Homo sapiens: one gene and its partners. The protein of the gene in region 6 purifies or fractionates together with the protein of the main gene of each other region. This does not show direct contact. Each region holds a gene or a part of one and is shown on either strand. Other genes may lie near its edges.

Region 1 (3,500 bases), on a different chromosome or scaffold from region 6:
CTCTTGTTTAATAGCAACGTGTGAGATTTCCTGTCCCTGGGGGTGTGGCAGAGCACAGCATCCAAAGAATCAGTGGTGACCTGGCCAGTGATGTGCAGTGTCCCATAGATCTCATCAAATTTGGCCACAAGGGCAGGCACATCCTTCACTTTTTCCCTCACTTTGGCCAGCTGGAAAAAAGCAAGAACACATCATTACATCTCTGCAAGATTTCTTCCTTATTCTTACTATAACCCTAAGAAAAAGAAATGGACATGAACAAAAATGTATGGTAGGCCAGGCGAGGTGGCCCATGCTTTAATCTAAGCAATTTTGGACGCTGAGACAGGAGGACTGCTTGAGCACAGGATTTCTAGGCCAGCCTAGGCAACACAGTGAGACTTTGTCTGTAAAAAAATTTTTTTAAAAATTAGTTGGTGTAGTGGGAGGATCACTTAAGCCCAGGAGACAGAGGCTGCAGTGAGCTGTGATCGTGCCACTGTACTCCAGCCTTGGCGACAGAGTGAGTCTTAAAAAAAAAAAAAAGTATGGTATACACCTAAAATCGTGAAAACCAGGGTACTGGGGCACACAGACAGCAGTATTACTATGAGGGATTCCAAAAGCTACACACAAAATTCAAAATTAGTACTTGAAAATCATACCTAATATAAAAAAAGGGGGGTTCAAATAACACATCATATATAATGAAACACACCAAGTAAAGGAGGTCATATACCAGTGGAATCAACTTTGTTCAATGTAATGATTAGAGCAGGAGGAGGCAGGGCCAAATTACATAGGCTTTATATATATTCCACAATAAGTTTTTTGAAATTTATTCTAAAAAAGCCATCAGAGCATCTAAAGTGGGAAATGATCTCATTTCTGTTCAAAAAGTTGCAGAGAATGAACTGGAGTGTACAGAAATGTGGAGACTATTCTGGAGGCCCACACCATAGCCCAGATAAGAAACAATGGTAGTTGAGATTGGGAAAGGTACAGAAAAGAAGGAGAAGTACACTTATGTGAGGTATATTTTGGAGTTTACACTGAAAGGACTTATTTTTGAATGGGTGAAGGAAAGGGAGGTGTCAAAGCTATCTTCTCAATTGGGGCTTTAATAGCTTGATGATGGGTGCTATCATTTCCTGATAGAGAAGACAGGGAGGCGAGATTTGGAAGGGAAAATCAAGAGCTCTGTTTGGACCTGATTGAGACGGCTGTGAACCATCTAAATGGGTATGTCTAGAACGTTGTTGGATATACAAGTCTGGGGCATGAAGGAGAGGTCTGGGCTAGAGGCATACGTAGTAGAGTCACAAGTATATGATGGTATTTAACCCCCAAAATGGGTGAACTAGAATGGAGAATGTGAAGCTGCTTTCTGAATAAAATCAGCATTTTACTTAGTTCAATCCTTATCAAGGGTACAATCTCAACACATTTCTTGATGGAATTTAATTGGGATCAAGCTTCCTAATAAATCCTTTGCCCCTCTTCCACCTCTTCCAAATATATAACACTGTTTGCACCTGCACATCTTCCTTTGAGACAATGGCTCCCAACCATGCCTGCAGACAAGCAGCTTAAGCACTTCTTAATGTTCTTAAAAAAGAATAGCTTGTTTAGTCCTCATGTTCAAGGTGAAAATGACTTAATGTGCAGCATATGGCTTCTAAAAGCAGCAGAGCAAACATGCCAAGCTGGAGGTAATTTTGATCTAAAAACTGTAACAGTTCTGTTACATAACTACAGAAATAAATCAGCAATTATTTTCAATAGTCCTGTGGTGGTATAATAGCACCTATGATAGTTTATAGTCTTATCTCCCTACATAACACTTTTTAAATAACTGCTGGCATAAGCATTAAATGCACTTTGTAAAATGCAGACGTTTACAATATAGGACTCCACTTGCAATCTCACACATATATATTTAGAACTAGCTCAAAAGCTACTGGAGTTATATGAATCAATCCATTTCTCATCAAGCTGTTCCTTGAGTGGTCCCACAGTAACCAGAGGGAAGACACTGAACTAGAGGGTTCATTTTCTAAGTACAAGAGTCTTATATGAGTATTTTTCAATATAAAGTTTGTTCGGGTGCTTTAGCCATATAAATGGGTGACAATGTATTGATGGTTCAGGTCTAAGGAATGGTTGTTAACAACAATGCTGCTGAGAAAATGGAAGTTGGATTTCACATGTACACATACACACGTGACTATGCACTTTAAAATCTGTTCATGCTTCTACTTTCCCTACTTTTCTAAACTTACTCCAAAAGGGTTGGGTGGATCACAGCCTACACAGAGCTAAAACTGCAAATAGAAAGAAGCGTTAAATCAACCATATCCAGTTAGTCATTTTCCTGACAAGCTCCCTTTTATCAGAAGGAAGAAGCCTTTGGGTGGAAGTGAGGAAATGGAACAGGGCTGGGAAGGCGACAGTGTGGCAGGAGGAGGAAGCAGCCACTGCCCTCTAGTGCCAATCCTGCTGTCTCAGCCTTCAGCCTGGACCAAACTATAAAAGAGAGGCAGGAGAAATGAGGGAGGAAGAGAGGACCAACCAACAGGCCACTTGGTTGGTCAAAATGACAATATCAGTATTATTACTAACAATATGATCACTGTCAATAACGTACAATTTCTTTACACTTCTGTTTTTCACCTTAAGTTACATGCTATGAGAGATACACAAATTACTACATCTCAAATGACCTACAAGAATTCCAATTTGTGTACTTAAGCCATCAATGTGACACATGGGTTCATTTGTTTCATTTCACTTTCAATTTTTAGGAACTGTTTTTTCTCTTCATTTTTATTTAACTCTGCTTTACAGTTCTGCAAAGCATTTACATGGTTCCTAAATGAAATACATAAACAAGGTACATTCGGAGAACTCATGTTTCCGTCCCTCACTTTCACTTTCAAAACTTTTATTTCTTAATTTTTTAAAATTAAATTTAAAAAATAATTTGTCAATTACTTTAATTGTCAAATAATAATTGTGTATATTTATAAAGTTCAATGTGATGTTTCAATCTATGTGTATACTGTAGAAAGATTCAGTCAAGCTAACAAAACTATCCATCATCTACCAATGTGTCTTTTTCTGCGGTGAAACATTAAAATATACTTCTTTGGCATTTTTGAAATATGCATAATAATTAACTGTGGTTCCTAAAGACTCAATCAAAAAAACCTTTAGGACTGATAAAGTCAGTAAAGCTGCAGGTTACAAAATTTACATACAAAAACAGCAGTATTTCTATAAAAAAAGATCTGAAAAAGAAATCAACATAACCACTTAAGTTTTGTTTTTTTTATCGTAGTGTTTTTCAAAAACATAAATATATAAAAATAACTATATGGTCCCGCCTTCTTAAGGCATACTACACATACCCATTTGCATCTTACTTTTGTCACTTAAAAACATATTTAAGTGATCCATATAAATGGTAATCCATAGCAGTATATGATGTAGCTGTTCCTCATTTCCTGTCCTTTGTACGA
Region 2 (2,947 bases), on a different chromosome or scaffold from region 6:
AGTAGCTAGGACTGCAGGCCTACAACACCACACCTGGCCTATTTTTTGTATTTTTAGTAGACATAAGGTCTCACCGTGGTGGCCAGCCTGGTCTCGAACTCCTGGCCTCAAGTGATCCGCCTGCCTCAGACTCCCAAAGTGTTGGAATTACAGGCGTGAGCCACCGCACCCAGCCCCACAAACTTAATGAAAACACCCCCTTGGCCAGGCGTGGTGGCTCACACCTGTAATCCCAGCATTTTGGGAGGCTGAGGTGGGTGGATCACTTGAGGTCAGGGGTTTGAGACCCGCCTGGCCAACCTGGTGAAAACCCATCTCTACTAAAAATACAAAAATTAGCTGGGCGTGGTGGCAGGCGCCTGTAATCCCAGCTACTCAGGAGGCTGAGGCAGGAGAATCACTTGAACCCGGGAGGTGGAGGTTGCAGTGAGCCGAGATCGTGCCAGCCCGGACGACACAGCAAGACTCTGTCTCGGGGGTGGGGGGGAAAGAAAACACCCATTAACCATATTAACCAACTACAATGAGAGAGAGCTGGGAGGGAAGGAGCCACAGTCTGCCCCCCGCCGGCAGAGGCTGAAGCAGCTGATCTCACAGGGCTTCCTCCATGCCTCCCACTTCACTACTCAAGGCAGAGCTGTGACTGAGGCACCTGACTTTGGAGCCCCTACTCTCCACACAGCACACACACACGTCTCCACACAGCACACAAACTTCTGTGTCAAGTAGGAAGACTGGCAGCAAGAGCACTGCAGGCTTTCATGTACTGTTCTTCCTATTCATTATTCAACACAAGCCTCTCAACTACCTTTTGTGTGCTGAACATCTCTTATACAGCAGCTAAGAAATGAACGCGGAAGAAAGCAAGAATGGGAAATAAAACCTCTTTAGGTCAATGCCCTGTATTGCCTAAAAGATGATTAGGTGAGCTGAATAGCAGAGCAGAGTAGACAGCTCTGTATATTGGTTTTAGAACCTATCATGTTGTTTGCACATTGTTGGAGTAACTTAAGTACGCCCATTTTCAAATAAATAACTACATTCCAAAGCCAAGTGCCCAGAAATGGAAACCACATTTCCCCAAGGTCAAGATTACAATGCATATGAGGGTGAGGATGGACAGACAGGGCTGCCTCTAGCCCATATGAGACCTTTATGAGAATGAGAAAGAGCCCAGGGCCAGATGCACAGAATGGCACACAGGGCGGCCCGAGGGTAGCAATGCTTTCTCCTCATCCCGCAAGCAGAGTATTCCATGGAAAAAAGAACGAACAGGGAGACAATTTAAAAACTCTAATGTATAAACATTCAATTCTCTGGAATTAGTTTGCATTTTAAATTCCATTTATTACCTGGCTTATATATACCTAGTTCCAAATATAAACCTACAACAGAACCAAACAAACAGACAAAACAACAAACAACCTAAGAAAACAAATTACCTGAGAAACTCGTTGATGCCTTGCTCACTGAAGGAGCCTTTTAGCAGAGCAAATTTCATCTTGCGTGCATTGATGGCGGCCATGGCGGGGTACCCAAACCCTCCAATCCCCAACGCGGTCTCAAGTTCAGACTGGGCTCCAGCTTCTGTCCACAGCCACCTAGAAAACCAGACTGGTTTTTAGGGCAAATATGTCTTTTAAATTGCTTACGATCTAACTAGAAGATCTTAGAGAACAAAAGATCACGCTTCAGATATTTCGTAGAATGACAAATAAAAACAAAAGATGAGTTTCTATATGGATTTTCCCTTTTTACCTGAAATCCCACCAATATCATTTGGGTTATTAAGCATGTTCTCGCGTTCTGTAGGCATCTAATAAACATTTGCTGGACTAATGGAGGAGGAGCAAGGTCATCGAGAGAGGGACAACAGGGGGCGCTAGGTACCTGGGGAAAGCAATGGATACTGAGGACAAGAAGCAAAAAGATAAATAGGAAGGAGGCTGGGCACGGTGGCTCACGCCTGTGATCCCAGCACTTTGGGAGGCCAAGATAGGTGGATCACCTGAGGTCAGGAGTTCGAGACCAGCCTGACCAATATGGTGCAAACCCCATCTCTACTAAAATCACAAAAATTAGCCGGGCATGGTGGCGTGCGCCTGTAGTCCCAGCTACGCAGGAGGCTAAGGCAGGAGGATCTTTTGAACCCGGGAGGCGGAGGTTGCAGTAAGCCGAGATTGTGCCACTGCACTCCACCCTGGGCAAGAGAGTGAGACTCTGTCTCAAAAAAAAAAAAAAAGGATAAAATAGGAAAGAGATACACTGTTTTGAAAATGTGCCTAGATCCAGTCCTTAACTCAGAAGAGGAGAAGGAAACAATTCTATTTCCCCTTTCTCACCCAGCCTTCAAGTTCACAGTAGAATTCAGGTGCACTACTCCTTATGTGTCTGCCTGCTAACCTGGCACTCCAATCACCATGTAAAACATGATTCCTATGAGAAAAATGCATGCTGTGCTGACAGCCCTTCATTCCTTCTTTTCCTCCCATGATAAAGTTTTCACATCCTGAATAAAAACATATAGCAGAGCAGGCCGGGTGCGGTGGCTTACACCTGTAATCCCAGGACTTTGGGAGGTGGAGGCAGGTGGATCACTTGAGGTCAGGAGTTTTGAGACCAGCCTAGACAACATGGTGAAACCCTGACCCTACTAAAAATACAAAAATTAGCTGGGTGTGGTGGCGGGCGCCTATAATCCCAGCTACTTGGGAGGCTGAGGCAGGAGGGAAAAAAAAAAAAAACATATAGCAGAGCAAACATAGAACACAGCTTACAAAAACACGGGGGAACCACTCTCAAGAAAGCCTATAATCAGCTGTTCAGATGACACTCAGACAGTAAGCTCAGTAACTTACCCCCACATTTTCTTTTTGTATTTGTCTGCCAACTTCAGAAGAACTTCCAGATAAGAATTTCTGCCTGCAGCTCCTGATTTAAATAGACA
Region 3 (3,500 bases), on a different chromosome or scaffold from region 6:
ATACACACACACACACACACACACACACACACACTCTCTCTCTCTCTCTCTGCTGGCCCCACACTCCCTCCCAGGCAGGCTCTCCAATAAACTCTTATGTACCCCTCTCTGTGCCCTCACCCATAAGCAGGGGCCCTGCCCACAGCCTCACCGTGGGCAGCTGGCGTGAAGACCACTGCACTTTGAGGAAGTTGATGTTGTCACTGCTCTGGGCATCATTCTCAAAGCTCTTCTTGTATTCTGGGGTGGGGGTGGGAGACACCCAACTGAGCACCACCTCTCAGCTTCCTTTCCCCCTAAGTAGGGGGCTGACTGCACCCTCTTGCCTCCCATCCTCCTTGGCCCACACCCAGCCCCTGCCACGCCTCTGACCCTCCAGGCAGGTAGAGTAGAACTCGATGAAGAACTTGGTGCGGCTGGCTGTCTTCACAATGGCCTCGATGCTCTCAAACTCAATGTAGGCCTGGTCTGAAGTCTTTGAGAGCCCTGAGGAGAAAGGGAGGAGAACAAACAGGAGGACTGAGAGGATCACAGGAGGAATGGGACAGAGAAACAGGGCCCTGGGACAGGAAATCAGGGGTCCAGAGCAAGGAGGCAGGGCCAGGAGGGGCCTCCCCAGTCCCAAGCCACCAACAGGGAATCTCCAGAGGCCAGACCCTGGACCAGAGCAAAGAGACAACCCAAGGATAAAAAACCCATTGAAGAGGGTGCTGGGGACCAGAATGCCTGCAGGATTCCCACACCTACAGGCATACTCAGGGACACACACGTGGCCCTAGACAGACACAGACACATAGATAGGTGTACACTCACGTATGCACACACACTCATGGGCACACAACTCTTGTGATGGCCCAGGCGCACAGACACCCTGACACATCACACCTTGAGAAACACTCCTGCACTCACTGGTACACACACCCACACACACACTTACATAGTCAAACCTATGTACATCCCGAGGCCACCACCTGTGCCCACCTAGATTATGCCACACCCACAAGCATATCTGGAACAGTCACCTTTCTTGGAGATGAACTGGGAGGTAACTCCAACCTCAAATGTCCCAAACACGGGGGAATGGTCGCTGGTGACGATGTCATCAGTGCAACCTGGGGAGAGGGGATAGGAATGGGGACTCAGGGGGAATATTCCCACCCTCGGCTCCCACCTCCCAAGGTTAGGGCAGAGTCCAGATGGTGACCACCCCAGATCTCCCATCACTCTGTCCGGGAGGCTCTGACCATAAGAATTGCAGATGATGTGAGTTTCAGGGTAGGATTTCCACAGAATCCGGTCACACCATGAGGGCACATTGGTCCGGACCTGGGGCAGGGGATGGCAGCATGGTTAGAGCTGACAGCTAGGAGGCTGCTTGGCATGGACCCCACTCCAGAGCTGATGAGTCCCCACACTTCTATTACTAGAGGCCCTAGCACCCACCTCCCTTCTTGGATCCTCAAAATACCCAGGATCACCCAAAGGCCTCAGAGGGGCCATGGAGGCTGGAGTGGAAGCTGCAGAGGCCCATACCCTTGACCCAAATTCTTGATTCATCGCAGGCCTGCGGTCCCCCAAGGCCCATGCCGTTTTCTTGGCTCACCCCAGTTGGCTTCTGCTTGTGCCAGGCATATGTGTCCCGGGAACCCCGCTCATAGCGGTAGGTGGGTGGGAAGGAGATCTCCTCCTCACCTAAGGAAAGCAGGAGACAGGTGGGGTTCAGGGCCCTGACACCCAGGGATACTGCAAGTCTCCTAGCCCTCAGATCACCACCTACCAGGCCCACACTCACTGAATCGAAGGAAGACCTTGTGCTTCTCCCGCTCCAGGTTGAGCTGGTCCACCCTGAGGAGGGGCTCAAACTCTTTCCTGCTGATGTAGTTCAGGATCTCCTGGGGTGGAGGACACAAAGGCTAGAAACATTCCTCCGGAGCCAGAGCCAGGGGTGATAGCCCATGTGGCCCTTAGCCTCCCTACAGCCATGGCAGGGCCCTGCTCGCACCTGGATATCCATGTCCAGGCGGTAGTTGAGGTCCCCAAACCAGAAGAGGTGTGTGAAACGCAGAGAGATGTCAAAGGCATTGAGCTGCCGGTCGCCCAGCGAGAGCAGCCGCAGGATGTCCAAGTAGTTTTGGTTCCTCCTAGGGTGAGGGGTGCGTGGTGGGGAGGGGTAGATCCCCAGGGTCAGGGCCAGAAGTCAGGGATAGGCATAAAGGGAAGAAGTCTCAGGAGTCAGGGATGGGGTAAAGATCCGGGCCCCTGGGGACAAGGTTAGGGTCAGGAACAGAAGGGTCTTGAATTGGGATAAGAGAGCAGGGGGTCTCTGGAGACAGGCCTGCGGGAGGGTCATGGGCTAGGGTATGGGAGCGGGAACAGGCCTCAGGTGAATGGGATGGGTGTAAAGAGACCATGGGAAAGGCGCCCCCTCACCGAGCCGTCTTCTCATTTCCCGAGGTGAGGTGACAATTCACAAAGCCAAATGAGGTGCCATTAAACATGAAGGAGACGCCCACAGCCCCCTTGTTCCCTGTTAAGGCAAGCAAGAGAGGAAGGCCTGGGTCATCCTCAGAGGGCTCCCAACTCTCCCTTCTGCCTCTCAAAGCTGCAGTGAGAGGATCCTCCCGCTGAGCCCACCAGACGCTGTGACATGGGCAGGCCCCTGCACACACCCACACCTTCCCTGGGGGAGGGGGGGGTCCTCATTGGGCACACATGGTCTGTGTGGATGGCCTGAGTCTGTCTGTATGTGTGAGCAGAGCCCCTGGAGATCACAGGGGACCCCAAGGGTGAAGCTGAAAGGCCCTGCAGATTCTGCGCAGAATCTACCTGGGAGAGCACCAGACCGAAAATCAGGAGACCTGGGCACAATGCCTGGCTCCACCACTTACTTGCTGTGTGACCTTGGGCAGGTCACTCAACCACTCTGGGTTTGAGTTTTATCATCTGTGAAAAGGGGGTAATTATCCTGGCCTTGCCTTCCCAGTGGTGCTGGGAGAGATTTAGAATATGAATATGTTTTTCAAAGTTCAAAGTACCCTATATATGGGGAAACTAAGATCACCAAAAATGGGGCAATCCTAGGCTTGAGAGGAAGCAGAAGCCATGGACAGAGAGACGCTGCCACTCTTGGGCACCTGCCAGCCCCACTTACCCAGGGTGTTGGCGATGCCAGTCTTCACACTGGACGTACTGACATGGCTGATACGGTTCTCGTGCTCTGGCTTGACCAGCACTGCCACCTTGATATTCCACAGTGATTGCATGGCAATCTGGGTAGAGAGTGCATGGTCACCACTGCCCTGCTGCACCCACTGCCTGCATTTCCCCCTGCACTATAAATAGACTTTTGTGTCCATCACAGGGTAGGAAGGCTTGCCACCCCTCTTCCTGACGGACTGGAGAGAAATGGTTCCTCTCGTGGCATGAAGGACTCAGGTCAGATCTCCCAAAGGATATGCTCAGGGACCAGAGAAAAAGCCAGTGAAGCTGTGCTCCCAGGG
Region 4 (3,500 bases), on a different chromosome or scaffold from region 6:
AAGCAAAAAAACAGAATGGTATGTGTACTCAAAGTAAGTTTCTACTAAACTCATATTGTTTTCAAACATCATACAGTCAAAAACTCCTAAGTAGGACCATCGTAAGTTGGAGTGCAGCTGTATTAGAAAACTAGATCAAGAGGAAGAGGAGGGAGATGTAAAAAAAAAAAAAAAAAAGAAAGAAAAGAAAAATGAAAACTAGATCAATATATTTCATGAACAGTGAAACAAAAATTCTTAAAATATTAGCAAACTGAATATAGCAAGATAAAAAAATGGATTATTCACAATGACCAAGTAGGATTTAGCTTAGGAAAATAAGGTTGATTTAACATCCAAAAATAAATTGATATAATTCATTCATTAATAATGTAATAAAGTACAAAACCACATAATCATGTCAAGAGATTCAAAAAAAGCAATTGACAAAATCCAACATCCATTCATGACAAAAACTCTCAACAAACCAGGAATAGGAGTATCAGATCTTAGACTGAAAAAGTATCTCAGAATAACTGGAAGGTAGTGCTTTGAGATCAGTAACAATGTTTCAACCAACTTTAAAAAGTACTCCTTCCTATCATAAAGTTAAAAATAATATTAAAAGAAAACCAAACACTGCATGTTCTCTTATAAGTGGGAGCTGAACAATGAGAACACATGGGCACATGCAGGGAGCAGCACATACTAGGGTCTGTCGGAAGGGGCGGGAGGAGGAAGAGCATCAGGAAGAATAGCTAATGGATGCTGGGCTTAATACCTAGGTGATGGGTTGATTTGTACAGCAAACCACCATGGCTTACATTTACCTATATAACACACCTACCTGCACATGTACCCTGGAACTTAAAAGCTGAAAAAAAAAAATTCAATTATCTTAAAATGTCAAAAAACTTATGGAAGTAGATGACTTTTTAAAATTGTTCCTATTCTTTAAAACTTGTCAGAGAGACTGCAATTCACGAAATTCATTATCTAGATCCTTACACGGCTTTCGAAAGGTATCAAGGATACCAAAGAAAACACTTCGGTATTTATTCCATGGCCCTATATATCTCTCTACCTTTTGCATTCATACAGCCTAGTAGAAAACCTGGTAACCCCGCAACACTTAGTAGAGAACAGAATGGCTAGGCTATAGCAAAAGCGCTCTATCTCACACTCTCTTATTCTAAATATCTCCATATGTTCCCTATCTCTTTACCTGCCAGCCACATTCAATCTCCTTCCATCAATTATCCCTCAATATCACACTCTCAAGCCACAGCTGCCTAGCAGATACCAGAGACAGGTGACAGGGTCTTCATATAAACATACTCGTCCGCTCAAAAGGCCTTGGCCCCTCCAGGCATGCCCAATCCATGCCTTTATTCACAAGGGCACCCAACCAAGAGACTGTGACCCACCAGGAAATCATAAGGTCATGTTATTTAAACCTACCATCCCAGCTCTTCAATTTCCTTCCTTAACTCCCACTGTGAACTTTATTTTCACCATTTTTCTATGTGGGAAGGGGAACCTCCATTCTCACTCCATGCCAAGTAATCCCAAGACCTCATGAAAATGAAAATTAGCAGCTCTCCCTCCCCTAAATTTTAAAACCATTTCTACCTCAGAGAAGTACTGCCACAATGGGAGGCACTGCACTTGTAAACTTAGAAAATAATGACTAGTCTTAATTGGGCAAGGCAAACAGCACTGCATTTACTCATTTATGTGCTGTCTATGGCTGCTTTAGTACTAAAATGGCAGAGTTTAAGAATCCTCTCCGGTCAGGTGAAGTGGCTCATGCCTGTAATCCCAGGACTTTGGGAGGCCAAGGTGGGAGGATTGCTAGAGGCCAGGAGTTTGAGACCAGCCAGGACAACAGAGTGAGACATCATCTCTACAAAAAATTTAAAAATTAGCTAGGCATGGTAGCACATGCCTGTAGTACTAGCTACTTGGGAAGCTGAGGCAGGAGGATCACTTGAGCCCAGGAGGTCAAAGCTGCAGTCAGCCGTGATTGCATCACTGCACCCCAGCCTAAGCGACAACGTGGGCAAAAAAAAAAAACCAGAGAGAGACCTCAAAAAAAAAAAATCATTTCCTACCTAAGGTCACAGAGATATTTTGTATTTCTTAATAAACGTCTTAGTATTTTGTCACATTTAAGTATATAATCGAATTATAATTGATTTTGGGGTATGGTAAGAGGTAGGGATCTAATTTCTTATTAGAAACTATATGGCCACAAAGCCAAAAAATATTTACTGATTGGCGCTTCACAGAAAATGTTTGCTACCTCTAATCTTGACAATCAGAAGGAAGAAGTCATTAATGATGCTACTGGGGGGCTACTGCAAACTATATGCTAGAAGTTTCAAACAACAATAAACAATAATAACTTGCCCAGCAAAGTACCCCAAAATAAAGAGTCAGTTTGCACCTCAGTTCCAATGAATGTAGGACGAATATACAGACTAGCAGATGTTGAATATGGGACCCATTCTTGATCCAATTTCACAAGCTGTTGAATACACTCTAAGAGCTCTTCTTTGTCAAATACCTGAAAGAATGAAAAACATAATAAATGACAGAATTTTCTCACAATGTGGCAATAATAAATGATCCTCACTGAAGCATTTAAACTGTTAAAAAATTAATAATCCCAACACAAAAAAATAAGAAATGTTTGAGGTGATGGATATCCTAATTATCCTAATTTTTATTTATTTCTTTCTTATTTGTCCTAATCATTACACATTATATGCATGCATGAAAACATCAGTGTACCTCATAAATATGTATAATTTATGGTACCAATAAAAAAAATTTTAAAGTAATAATAAAACCAAACAATTTTTTCTGATTTTCCCCCCAAAAATTGTGATGGGATGACGAGCTATCCACATGTGAAAGATAAGATTAGATCCCTACATCTTACCATACCCCCCAATCAATTCTAATTAGATGATATACTTAAATGTGACAAAATACTAAGACTTTATTTAAAAAGTACAAAATATCTCTGTGACCTTAAGGTAGGAAAGGATTCTTAAGTAGGAGATGTAAAACACAAATCATGAAGGAAAAAAATGGATAAAATGTGACTATTTGAAACTTAAAGACTTCCGTTCTTCAAAAGATGTAAAGCAACAAACTGGGTGAAGTTATTGGTAGCATGATCAACAAAGAATTTTAACTGGTATATATATTTGGATATCCCCAAAGTCAATGAAGAGATAGATAACCCAATAGGAAAATGGGCAAAAGCAAAGAGCACTTTATTTCTAAAGAAAAAAAAATTACATCTACTAGATGGGTGATACTTCATAAAATAATTTAGTCTCTGCTCACTTGCAAAGTAGAGAAACATACTTTCAGAGATGTGATGGGTCACCTAAGGTAGAAATGAGTCAGTCATAAGCATCTGAGTAAAGCTCATGAAGTCAGAATTTGTCTATTTAAATATTGACCTGTAACAGCAATAATAATGTAGTAATGTTATAGAAATTGGG
Region 5 (3,500 bases), on a different chromosome or scaffold from region 6:
GCTGAAGCAGGAGAATGGCTTGAAAGCGGAAGGCAGAGGTTGCAGTGAGCTGAAATCATGCCACTGCACTCCAGCCTGGGCAACAGAGTGCGACTCCGTCTCAAAAAAAAAAGAAAAAGAAAGAAAACAGATTCTTGAGTGGGGATGGTGTCAGTGGTTTACACCTGGGTCTGATGGAAACATCTCTGTTCCAGGCCGAGACGCATCCAGAGCTTTCGTGACCGGGGACTGTTCTGAAGCAGGCCTCGTGGATGACGTATCCGACCTGTCAGCCGCTGAGATGCTGACACTTCACAATTGGCTTTCATTCTATGAGAAGAATTATGTGTGTGTTGGTAAGTCGTCCATAGGTCATACATTTCATTTGGTTGTCTGCAGTGTTTTTAGGGGGCTGAGATTTTTTAGGGATTGGGTTCAAGCTTAAAATCTGAAAAACAGCCATGGATTTGTTTTACTTTAAATTCTGGTCGTTAGAATAGGGATGAGCCGCCCAGAAGGAGATGGATGGGCACCTGCTTCCCCCACTCTTAGTCTTGGGAGAGGATTACTAAGCTGCTTGCTTTGGCCTCAGTTTCGCCATAGCCAGTGGTTGCTTGCACCATCCTTGAACAACCAGCTCCAGAAGGGCAGCTTCCCTGTCTCACTGTGTTCGATGCATCTGGCTTCAGCACACAGCCAGAAGGGCTTGAAGCCTGAATTTGTGTTTCGACAAATCCCCTTTTATTTGGTCCTCTAGGAGGAGACAAACTTCGTGAGTGAGCTGTCTCCCAGGTGGTAGTTATGCTAATCAAACCACTGTGTAGGTTACTGCACTTGCTACTTACTGATGCTACATAAGGGACTTGCTTCTCAAATGAGACAACACCAAACTGTGTCCTAAAGCAGTGTTAAAGACTCTAAACACTAGGCCCGGCGCAGTGGCTCACGACTGTAATACCAGCACTTTGGGAGGCTGAGGCGGTTGGATCACTTGAGGTCAGGAGTTCAAGACCAGCCTGGCCAACATGGTGAAACCCTGTCTCTACTAAAAAATACAAAAATTACCTGGGCGTGGTGGCACGCACCTGTACTCCCAGCTACTCAGGAGGCTGAGGCAGGAGAATCGCTTCAGCCCGGGAGATGGAGGTTGCAGTGACCTGAGATTGCGCTACTGCACTCCAGCCTCAACGAAAGACACTAAACACTAGATTGCTTCACAAGTACTGACAACTGGGATGGCCGTAGCCCTTTCTTCTATCTATCTGCAGCCCCCACGTCTCACTGGAGTCCTACTTGGACATGACTGACTTCCTGAGGAACACCAGTATCACTTCACCATCGAAACAGGTCTAACTTGGAAGAATTCTTTCCTTAATGCCTCTGAATTTCTGCTTCTGTCATCACTGCTTGAGTTACCTTTTCTGAGAACCTTGGCATTTTTATTAACACCTCAGCTCCCTCCACATCCAATCAATCATGGCTTTTTCATAATATCTAAAGTTTGTGTCCATCCATTGTGGGCCTCTGCAGCACGCCTTTCTTCATTTTCTCTCGTATGCCCAAGATCAGTCTTGAGACCATAACCCTGTCTACCATCGAAGGCACTGACCTCTACTCACCTGCGCTTCAGAGGGCTGGGTTCTTCCCTTTCCCAATGAAGTTGCCAAACCAAGGTTGAAACATTACTGGGTTAATAAAGAAAAGAAAACCCAATAGAAAAGAATAAGAGCCAGGAGTGGTCTCTCACACCTGTAATCCTAACACTTTGGGAGGCCGAGGTGGGCGGATCACCACCTGAGGTCAGGAGTTCAAGACCAGCCTGGCCAACATGGTGAAACCCTGTCTCTATTAAAATACAAAAATTAGCCGGGCATGATGGCAGGTGCCTGTAATCCCAGCTACTCAGGAGGCTGAGACGGGAGAATTGCTTAAACCTGGAAGACGGAGGTTGCAGTGAGCCAAGATCGCACCACTACACTCCAGCCTGGGTGGCTGAGTGAGACTCTGTCTCAAAAAAAAAGAAAAAAAAGAAAAAGAATAAGAATGGAGTCCAGACCGGTGGCTCATGCCTGTAATCCCAGCACTTTGGGAGGCTGAGGTGGTCGGATCAGTTGAGGTCAGGAGTTCAAGACCAGCCTGACCAACATGGCAAAACCATGTCTCTACTATAAATACAAAAAATTAGCTGGGTGTGGTGGGACACACCTGTAATCCCAGCTACTCAGGAGGCTGAAGCATGAGAATCACTTGAACCTGGAAGGCAGAGGTTGCGATAAGCCGAGATCACATCACTGCATTCCAGCCTGGGCAACGGAGTGAGACCCTGTCTCAAAAAAAAAAAAAAAAGAACAGAGTCCTGTAAATGGGCAAAGAATGCCAGGCCAAATACTTCATACTAAGATTTGGGAGCACACTGGAAGTGTTCGGATGCGTTTGGTGTGACAAGTGAGCTGGTCTTGTTTGAATGATGTATAATGTGTTGAGGATGGGGTGGGGCATGTGGCGGGAAATGCCTCAGAAGGATTTTAGTTGATGTCAGGATCTTATTGAATACCTACTACTCATAAGTTACGGGTTCCATCCTCAGGGGGACCAGGGATGAATTGAGTCCAGTTCCTGCCCCTGTTAGCTCATTCTGTAGGATAGGGGCCATGTTAGGCTCTTTCAGGTTACCAGAAACCCTCAGGATACATCAGTGGATGAAGGTTTATTGTAAGGGTACATACTGAAGTGAGGACAGCCAGGAAGCCATCTTGGCAGCCAACATGGCCAGGCCTCAAGGGAAAACAAGATGGCCTTGGTTATGCTGTGGATACAGGATTGGCTTGGAGATGCAGCCACTGGTGATCACCATTCTCATGACACAGATTCTAGAACTCTTCCTCTGTTGCCTCTGCTACTACTGTCCTCTCTTTGGGTCTCATGTCAGAAACTCACCAAAGACAGGCTTGTCACCATATAACACAGACACCCCAACCCCCGTAGTGGGAAATTCTGTGCCAGGCCAACTCATAGACTGCAGGCCTGTGACTCGGGCCCTGATTCCTTTCTTTATTCATCTAATAAGTATTTAAAATGAATGCTCTATGCTAAGCTGTTTTATTTATTTATATATTTTTTCAGATGGAGTCTTGCTTTGTCACCCAGGCTGGAGTGCAGTGGCACGACTGCAGCTCACTGCAACCTCCAACTTCTAGGTTCAAGCAGTTCTCCTGCCTCAGCCTCCTGGGTAGCTGGGATTACAGGCATGCACCACCACGCCCAGCAAATTTTTGTATTTTTAGTAGAGACAGGGTTTCACCATGTTGGCCTGGCTGGTCTCGAACCCCTGACCTCAAGTGATCTGCCCGCCTCAGCCTCCCAAAGTGCTGGGATTACAGGTGTGAGCCGCTGCGCCTGGCGCTAAGCTGTTCTGAGTACTGCGCCTCACTAGTAGAGAGAGCCATCATAGACAAGTAAACAGATTGAACAACTCCACATAGGACCATGCATCAAACTGTGATGTAATACGTTTGGGAGCT
Region 6 (3,500 bases):
ATTCAGGTATACATTTGTATATTGTGTTGACTAATAACTAAAACTTACTAAATTCTGTGTACTTTATAAATACATGTACAAACTAGTTTTTTCACAAAAATCCTATAAGATAGACATTATTATCTCCCTTTTACAGAAAAAGAATCTGACAAGAAAGAAGTTAGGTAGCTTATTCAAGATCACTCTAATGGCAGACAGAATAGGGATATAACCCAGGTGGTCTGACTTCAATGTCCCAGTCAGGGCTAGAGAGTGAATGTCTCTGCATTCTGTACCCCAGGACCCTCACTTGCCTCCCTTTAATCCCAGTACTAGTCCAAATTCCTAGTCTCTAAACTAGACTGCTGCTATCAGAGCAGGTCACCGACCATCAAAACCATCTCAGGTGCCATTCACCAACAACCCAAGATCTAGTCAAAACTCTGTTACCTTCCTGCTTACTGCTAAGTACTGTATATGTCACATAGAGGCAAAAGGGCTAGGTTCATGGCTCTACCATTTATTAGCTAAACGACCTTGTCAAAGCACATTCCAAGTCTACTTTCTCACCTATAAAATGTGATGAGACCTACTGCTCCCCAAGTTAATCCCCTTATCACTCCCCTACTGTTAATCCCCAAGACCATGGAGAAAATGTCTCCAGGCCACATCAGAGACCTTCACTGCAGCCCGTCACATCACAAGCCCAGAGGTTAGGTGGCTAAACCTGGCAACATGGTGGGCTAGAAATTCTGAAGGATTCTCCTACTTTCACAAAACATCTAGCTCCTGGATAAAATATATTACACTTCTAGGTTCCCAAGAAATAATGCTGTAGAAACAGAGCTTTCCCTAAGAATAAATGAAATGAAATAGTAGATTATTATTCAACTTATGGTCCAAATATTTACACATAATTAGAGTGTATCAAGTACTTTATATATATATATATATATATATATATATATATAACTAGAGTATATTTAGAATAGTGGTTCTCAGCCAGAGGTGATTTTGGCCCCCGGCGACATCTGGCAATGTCTAGAGACATTTTTGGTTACAACTGAAGAGTGCTACTGGCATCTAGTGGGCAGAGGCCAGTTGTGCTGCTAACATTCTACAATCAATAGGACAGCCCCTGCAACAAAGAATTAACCAGTGCAAAATGTCAATAATGCCAGTGTTGAGAAATCTGAACCAGAGGCAGATAAACTGAATTTCAGATATACTTCCAATTGAGGCAACTCTTCTCATTTGTTTTATTAAAAAGAGAGAAAATGTTTTATATCTCCCACAGTACTTGACATTTGGACATAGGTAGGTTGGAAAATCTAGAAATCAGGTTGATTTTATCATTCACTTTGAAGAGAATTTCTACAGTGTCATTCCCACCCACAGACACTCACCAATCCAAAACACATTTACATTCGAATATAGATTTACTGAAAACCAGGGCTGTATTTTATTGTGTTTTTTCTACCTCTCACAGTTTACACATTAAAGTAGGCCTGCAGTGTTTCAAAAGATAACCTCAAAGATTGGGTTGAAATATTCTTATCATCTCCCTTTCTGCTTACCTCATTAACCCTCAAATTACATGCATTCTCATCATTCATCTTTGTTCTCAATCTAATTCACCACTGCCTCCTTTACAGCCTTATACAAGCTTTTGATAAGTTTGTAAAATGGCCCCAGAAAGTAGGGAGAGGGGCTAGAGCTAATGACAGGCTTTCTAAACCATAAAATATGAAATTAAAGTTCGTTTTATTAAGCAAGAATGTCTAAACCTGAGCAGTCCAATATGGCAGCAACTAGCCATATGTAGTGATTTAAGTTTAGATTAATAAAAATTCAGTTCCTCAGTTCCACCAACCACATTTTGAGTGCTTAATAAGCACATGTGGCTAGTGGCTACCATACTGAAGAGCACAGGTACAGAACACTTTCATCACTGCAGAAAGTTCTATTGGACAATGCTGGCTGTCCAGCTGTTAAATCTAGGGCATATTCTAGAAATTCTAATGAGATCCTGAAGAAATTCAGTGCAGAGAATTAAAATAACAAACTCATTTTAGTCTAACCGTTTTATTTTTAACTCCAATACAACCCAGATAGAAGAGTATGGCCCATTTAAAAACAACAAGAATATTACACTATTTTGTTCAGTTAGATTCAGGTGCCGTATCTATTATCAAACACTTCAATCAAATACTTACTGAATGCCAACCACATATGCCCAGACATCGTGGTAGAAGCTGGGGATTCAAAATTGAGTAGGTCACATTTTTTGTCATTTAAAAACTAACCATTAAACTAAAAATCAGTGTGTTACCTATAAAATATGTACTAAAAAAGTCATATATAACAAAAATGGAGGTGGAAACATTTGGTCTCAAAGATGCTCATTCTCTTCGAGAGAATGTCTTGATTCTACTATTAACGATAGGGAAAATTCTCCAGATTTTCATTGTGAAAAGCGAGAGTAGATAACAATCTAGACTGACCACTAGTTTGACCTAGAGAAAATTACCTAACATCTTTAGAACTGATTTTCTACACCTAAAAATGCTGCATCTTCTATACAAGGTCACAAAACTACAAGGACAACCATTATAAAAGTATAACATAAATTGCAAAAAACTCATTCCACGTTACACTAAGGAATCAAAAGAAGCTTGTTTTCTTATTATTCACATCCCTCAGTTACTTCATGCTACTTGAACAATTTATATTGTTCTTCTTCCAACTCATGTCTCGGAATTAGCACTCTTACACTTGTATTTTTAGATACCTACTCTTCACTATTAGTAACCTGTAATTTTTCTCAAGGTAAATAAATATTTGCTCATCTGTTTCACACCTATATATTTTTCCTACCTCACACAGGAAATATTTTTGGGTTTTTCTGTTTTTTTTTTTTTTGAGACAGAGTCTTGATCTGTCACCCAGGCTGCAGTGTAGTGGCATGATCTCGGCTCACTGCAACCCCCGCCTCCTGGGTTCAAGCCATTCTCCTGCCTCAGCCTCCCCAGTAGCTGGGATTACAGGCACGCACCACCATGCCCAGCTAATTTTTGTATTTTTAGTAGACATAGGGTTTCACCATGTTGGCCAGGCTGGTCTCAAACTCCTCACACAGGAATATTCTTATTGAAAATTCTAGAGAAGTTTCCTGTAGATACCTATTAATAAATACGCCAAGACCTACCTCATCACCGCAATCAAGGTAAGATTTGCAACTGGTTGCCAAGTTGCAGCCTCGACACCTATGCTGAATGGATGAGACCACAACAAATGTTCCTTAACATTTATTAACTGTGATTATTTATTTGTACATAGATTTAAAGGAGCCTAATAATCAACTTCTAAACCAGCAGTTCTAAAACTCTTTCATCTCAGGACGATTTATCAAATTACTGAGACCCGGCCGGGAGCGGTGGCTCATGTCTGTAATCCCAGCACTTTGGGAGGCCGAGGTGGGGGGATCACAAGGTCAGGAGATCGAGACCATCCTGGCTAAC
Region 7 (3,500 bases), about 26 Mb from region 6:
TTTTCAGCAGTTGGGGAAAAAATATTACATAACACACATAAATTATGTCACGATATGAAATTCACATTTCAGAGCCCATTCCTTTATATAATGTAACATTCAGAGCTGCTTTCACACTACGATGGCAGTGCTCAGTAATTGTGACAGACCCTGTGGCTCACAAAGCTTAAAATATTTAGTATTTGGCCCTTTCCAGAAAAGAGTTTGTTAACCCCTGTGTTAGGACCTTGTGTGGCCATTAAAAGCCTTTATGAAGAGTTTGTAACAGTAAGTTTAAGCCATATATGTTATCATGGATAATTCTGTAAAAAAATCAGGATGTAAAGATGAAATACTTAATAAAATGACATAAAAACATGAAAAAAATGTTGTTTTAGGTACTGGGACCTATGGGTGATGTTATTCCTTTCTTATTTTTCATTCCAGGTATTCTGTATAACAAGAATTACTTTACCATGGTGAACAAAGGTATTTAAAAGAATAAGCAAAGCACATGCATAGCAATTACATTTTATGAGTCAGAAAATAATCTTAGCACTTACCTGTCAACACAACTTTTCCAGATACAAAGATAAGCAACACAATTCGTGGTTTTACCATTCTATAAATAAGACCAGGAAACAGTTCAGGCTCGTAACTGTTAAGATGTAAAAGGAAAATGTTAAAAATAGCACTATTCAGCTCCTTTCCCATAACATGTAAGGCCCAGTATATTAAAGTGCATATTAAAGCAGTTGTAAATAAGTTAGCTATTTTATCAAAAACTTTTTAACTATCTTGATGAAGAGTCTTGAGTGTCCTAGGTAATATCTTATGGAAGTTAGGAACATAATTAATTTTGGGTCATAACACAAGTGCAAGCTATCCTGGATGGTTATTAGAAATCAAGGTAACTTAGGGCATCTGATTTAGTGTATTGAGAGCTTGTTGGTTAAACATCCTCTATCTTTTCAAAAAAGTCTGTTAATAAGAATACATAATCATGTTTTTCTGGGTTTCCAAATTCTCCAATAATAAACATATTTTGTATGCTTTTACGAACTGCTGAAGTTAACATTTTTAGCAGATAGAACCTAAAAATATTTCTAGGCCACTGCTATTTGTATTTGAACAGGTGCTATATAAATAAAGAAAATCCAATTATCCCGAGTTTTTACAATTCAGGATTTGTTGCTATAAATAGTAACTCATATTTACTACTAAATATAAGCTGGCCACTCCATGGAGCGAAAGATGATAGCACTTAAGAGCTTCTTCTCCACACTCCAGCCTGGAGAGGAGGGCAGATTCTTAGAAAGGCTTGAGGAACCTACCAAAAAGAAGTCAGGAAGTGAGAGGAGGTGAATAAAACTATTCTCAAAGCAGTGGCTAATGGACAAGAAATATAAGAAAAAAAGACATCCAAGCAATGGAACACTAGCATCTTTGCACTTAAAGGGTGAATCCAGACTGCATGGAAAAGCTCCATTCAGTTCAGCAATGAACAAGACCCAAAAACAACAGCAGATGTGGAACCTTTTACTGGCTCCAGAAAGGCGCATCTTGAAGTGAGTCTTGCCCATCTCAAGTATAGGAGGTCATTGTGGGTGGAACTGTCTTCTGGAACATCACTCTGTCTTACTGCAGGGAGCCTGTCAAGACTTTCTCCCACTAACCACTTCCCAACACTGGGGAGACCATGACACTAGGGGGAGCCCTGAAAAACCCTCCAGGGCTATGAGATCCAGGCCAAGAAAATGAAGGCTGGAGACACAAAAAGAAGATTTCCATTTGATCTTCCAGCTAAATTTTAAGACTTAGAAAAGAGAAAACAAAAACTTTGGTATGTAAATGATATTGAACTGCATTTAGCTTTTAGAACCATGGTTTTAAGATTACCAGTATAATGTGCTCCCAATTAGGAATATACTTCATTTTATTTATTCTCTGCCTCATTCCAAAAGAAGGCTGAGGCAGAGAAAGAGAGTGGTTTTGGTTAGGGATGGAGAACATTTCACAAAGATTGAGAATATCGAACACCTGCCAATTTCTTGGCCAACCCAACTTTGACCCATCCTTCAAGTCTCATTTTAAATGTTACTTCCCCAAGAAAATCTTCCTTGATCTCTACCCACCCCCAATTACATTAAAGACCCTGCTTTATGGTCTCATAGCCCCTGAAGGGCCTTACCTTCACAGTCACCATGTTTCATTACTGTCATTGACTTGTCCATCTTTTCTTTTAGACAGTGATCTCTATGTGGGCAAGGGACTATAGCTATATTGCTTGCCATTATCATCCTAGCATCTGCTACATGGTAGTCACCTAGATCTTATTCATATAGCAAGTATTTATATCAGGATACCTTTGAATTAAAAATTAAAGAGGGGGCCGGGTGCGGTGGCTCACACCTGTAATCCTAGTACTTGGGAAGTCGAGGTGGGTGGATCGCCTGAGGTCAGGAGTTCAAGACCAGCCTGGCCAATATGGTAAAACCTCGTCTCTACTAAAAATACAAAAATTAGCCGGGTGTGGTGGTGGGTGCCTATAATACCAGCTACTCAGGAGGCTGAGGCAGGAGAATCACTTGAACCCTGGGGGGTGGAGGTTGCAGTGAGCTGAAATCATGCCACTTCACTCCAGCCTGGGCAAAAGAGCAAAACTCCATCTCAAAAAAAAAAAATAAATAAATAAAATAAAGAGGGAAAAATTCTCATTGACAACTGTGGAAATGATTATGTCATAGAAAGATTACCAGAGAAAGTGCCTGGTAACAAAAGGAGATACTTGTATTATTAAATGTTGACATACAAATTTGCAGAACCTGGGAAACTGAATGACCTTAGGGGTTTAACACAAGGCAAATTTGGCCTGATAATTATAACTGATTATGTAGCATGGTTCCCCACAGAGCTACAGACAATTAGAGAGGCCTCATGTTAAAAATTCAAATCTTCTAAGAGGTGTTTTTAATGTTCCCAGTGTCAAGAATACACACTCTGGAGTTGTAATCCATAACCTGAGGCTGACAGCCGAATGGAGAGGATGAGGGGGAGGCAAGAATGAGACTAGAAATAGAAAGTTGTGGGAATACAAAGCAAGCTTCCTGGCCAGATTAAAAAAAAAAAAAGAAAAGAAAAGAAAAGATGACTGAGATCATAAAACTGTCCCAGGAGGAAGATAGAACAGGGATGGGCCCACTCCGTCTGATGTATTCTCACTGCGCCTTACTGGCAACCCTTCCAGAAGCTGGTAGTAATAACAAGGGGCACCTATTCTAGACTTAGATCTGCTCTGCAAGGAAGATGCTGGTGAAAAAGAAATGAATGGACACTTGGGAAGAACCACACACATCATTTTCGAGCCCTGAATGGCCAGAAGGGAATGCTAAGTCTAATGTAGACACAACCTTAGAGTTCGGGCAGAGCTCTTGCAGATGTACACTAAGCCGATTCAGAGAAAGATAGGCTGGAGGCTCGTGACTTGAGAGTCTGGAAGATAAGACAACTTAAGCACTGGG

The links.
Region 1: the proteins of GTF2A1 (region 6) and PTCD2 purify together in Homo sapiens (affinity purification with mass spectrometry; 3 studies listed by BioGRID and IntAct, with this or other methods). This does not show direct contact.
Region 2: the proteins of GTF2A1 (region 6) and PDIA6 fractionate together in Homo sapiens (co-fractionation; one large-scale study listed by BioGRID). This does not show direct contact.
Region 3: the proteins of GTF2A1 (region 6) and INPPL1 purify together in Homo sapiens (affinity purification with mass spectrometry; 3 studies listed by BioGRID and IntAct, with this or other methods). This does not show direct contact.
Region 4: the proteins of GTF2A1 (region 6) and BCAT1 purify together in Homo sapiens (affinity purification with mass spectrometry; 2 studies listed by BioGRID and IntAct, with this or other methods). This does not show direct contact.
Region 5: the proteins of GTF2A1 (region 6) and CYB5D2 purify together in Homo sapiens (co-immunoprecipitation; one large-scale study listed by IntAct). This does not show direct contact.
Region 7: the proteins of GTF2A1 (region 6) and TBPL2 purify together in Homo sapiens (affinity purification with mass spectrometry, with the first as the bait; one large-scale study listed by BioGRID). This does not show direct contact.

What each region holds. Positions count from the first base shown.
Region 1 is NC_000005.10:72,354,873-72,358,372, reverse strand, and holds part of PTCD2 (pentatricopeptide repeat-containing protein 2, mitochondrial), read right to left. Parts: intron 171-3,500; coding exon 1-170. UniProt on the Homo sapiens protein: Involved in mitochondrial RNA maturation and mitochondrial respiratory chain function.
Region 2 is NC_000002.12:10,785,839-10,788,785, forward strand, and holds part of PDIA6 (protein disulfide-isomerase A6 isoform d precursor), read right to left. Parts: intron 2,932-2,947; coding exon 2,859-2,931; intron 1,602-2,858; coding exon 1,443-1,601; intron 1-1,442. UniProt on the Homo sapiens protein: May function as a chaperone that inhibits aggregation of misfolded proteins. Negatively regulates the unfolded protein response (UPR) through binding to UPR sensors such as ERN1, which in turn inactivates ERN1 signaling.
Region 3 is NC_000011.10:72,231,267-72,234,766, reverse strand, and holds part of INPPL1 (phosphatidylinositol 3,4,5-trisphosphate 5-phosphatase 2), read right to left. Parts: intron 3,270-3,500; coding exon 3,152-3,269; intron 2,528-3,151; coding exon 2,431-2,527; intron 2,142-2,430; coding exon 2,003-2,141; intron 1,893-2,002; coding exon 1,793-1,892; intron 1,693-1,792; coding exon 1,604-1,692; intron 1,327-1,603; coding exon 1,245-1,326; intron 1,113-1,244; coding exon 1,023-1,112; intron 487-1,022; coding exon 373-486; intron 241-372; coding exon 152-240; intron 1-151. UniProt on the Homo sapiens protein: Phosphatidylinositol (PtdIns) phosphatase that specifically hydrolyzes the 5-phosphate of phosphatidylinositol-3,4,5-trisphosphate (PtdIns(3,4,5)P3) to produce PtdIns(3,4)P2, thereby negatively regulating the PI3K (phosphoinositide 3-kinase) pathways.
Region 4 is NC_000012.12:24,876,102-24,879,601, forward strand, and holds part of BCAT1 (branched-chain-amino-acid aminotransferase, cytosolic), read right to left. Parts: intron 2,549-3,500; coding exon 2,429-2,548; intron 854-2,428; coding exon of another isoform or gene 827-853; intron 1-826.
Region 5 is NC_000017.11:4,149,697-4,153,196, forward strand, and holds part of CYB5D2 (neuferricin isoform 1 precursor), read left to right. Parts: intron 1-194; coding exon 195-335; intron 336-3,500. UniProt on the Homo sapiens protein: Heme-binding protein which promotes neuronal but not astrocyte differentiation.
Region 6 is NC_000014.9:81,210,960-81,214,459, forward strand, and holds part of GTF2A1 (transcription initiation factor IIA subunit 1), read right to left. Parts: intron 1-3,500. UniProt on the Homo sapiens protein: TFIIA is a component of the transcription machinery of RNA polymerase II and plays an important role in transcriptional activation. TFIIA in a complex with TBP mediates transcriptional activity.
Region 7 is NC_000014.9:55,423,617-55,427,116, forward strand, and holds part of TBPL2 (TATA box-binding protein-like 2), read right to left. Parts: intron 638-3,500; coding exon 543-637; intron 469-542; exon of another isoform or gene 427-468; intron 1-426. UniProt on the Homo sapiens protein: Transcription factor required in complex with TAF3 for the differentiation of myoblasts into myocytes. The complex replaces TFIID at specific promoters at an early stage in the differentiation process.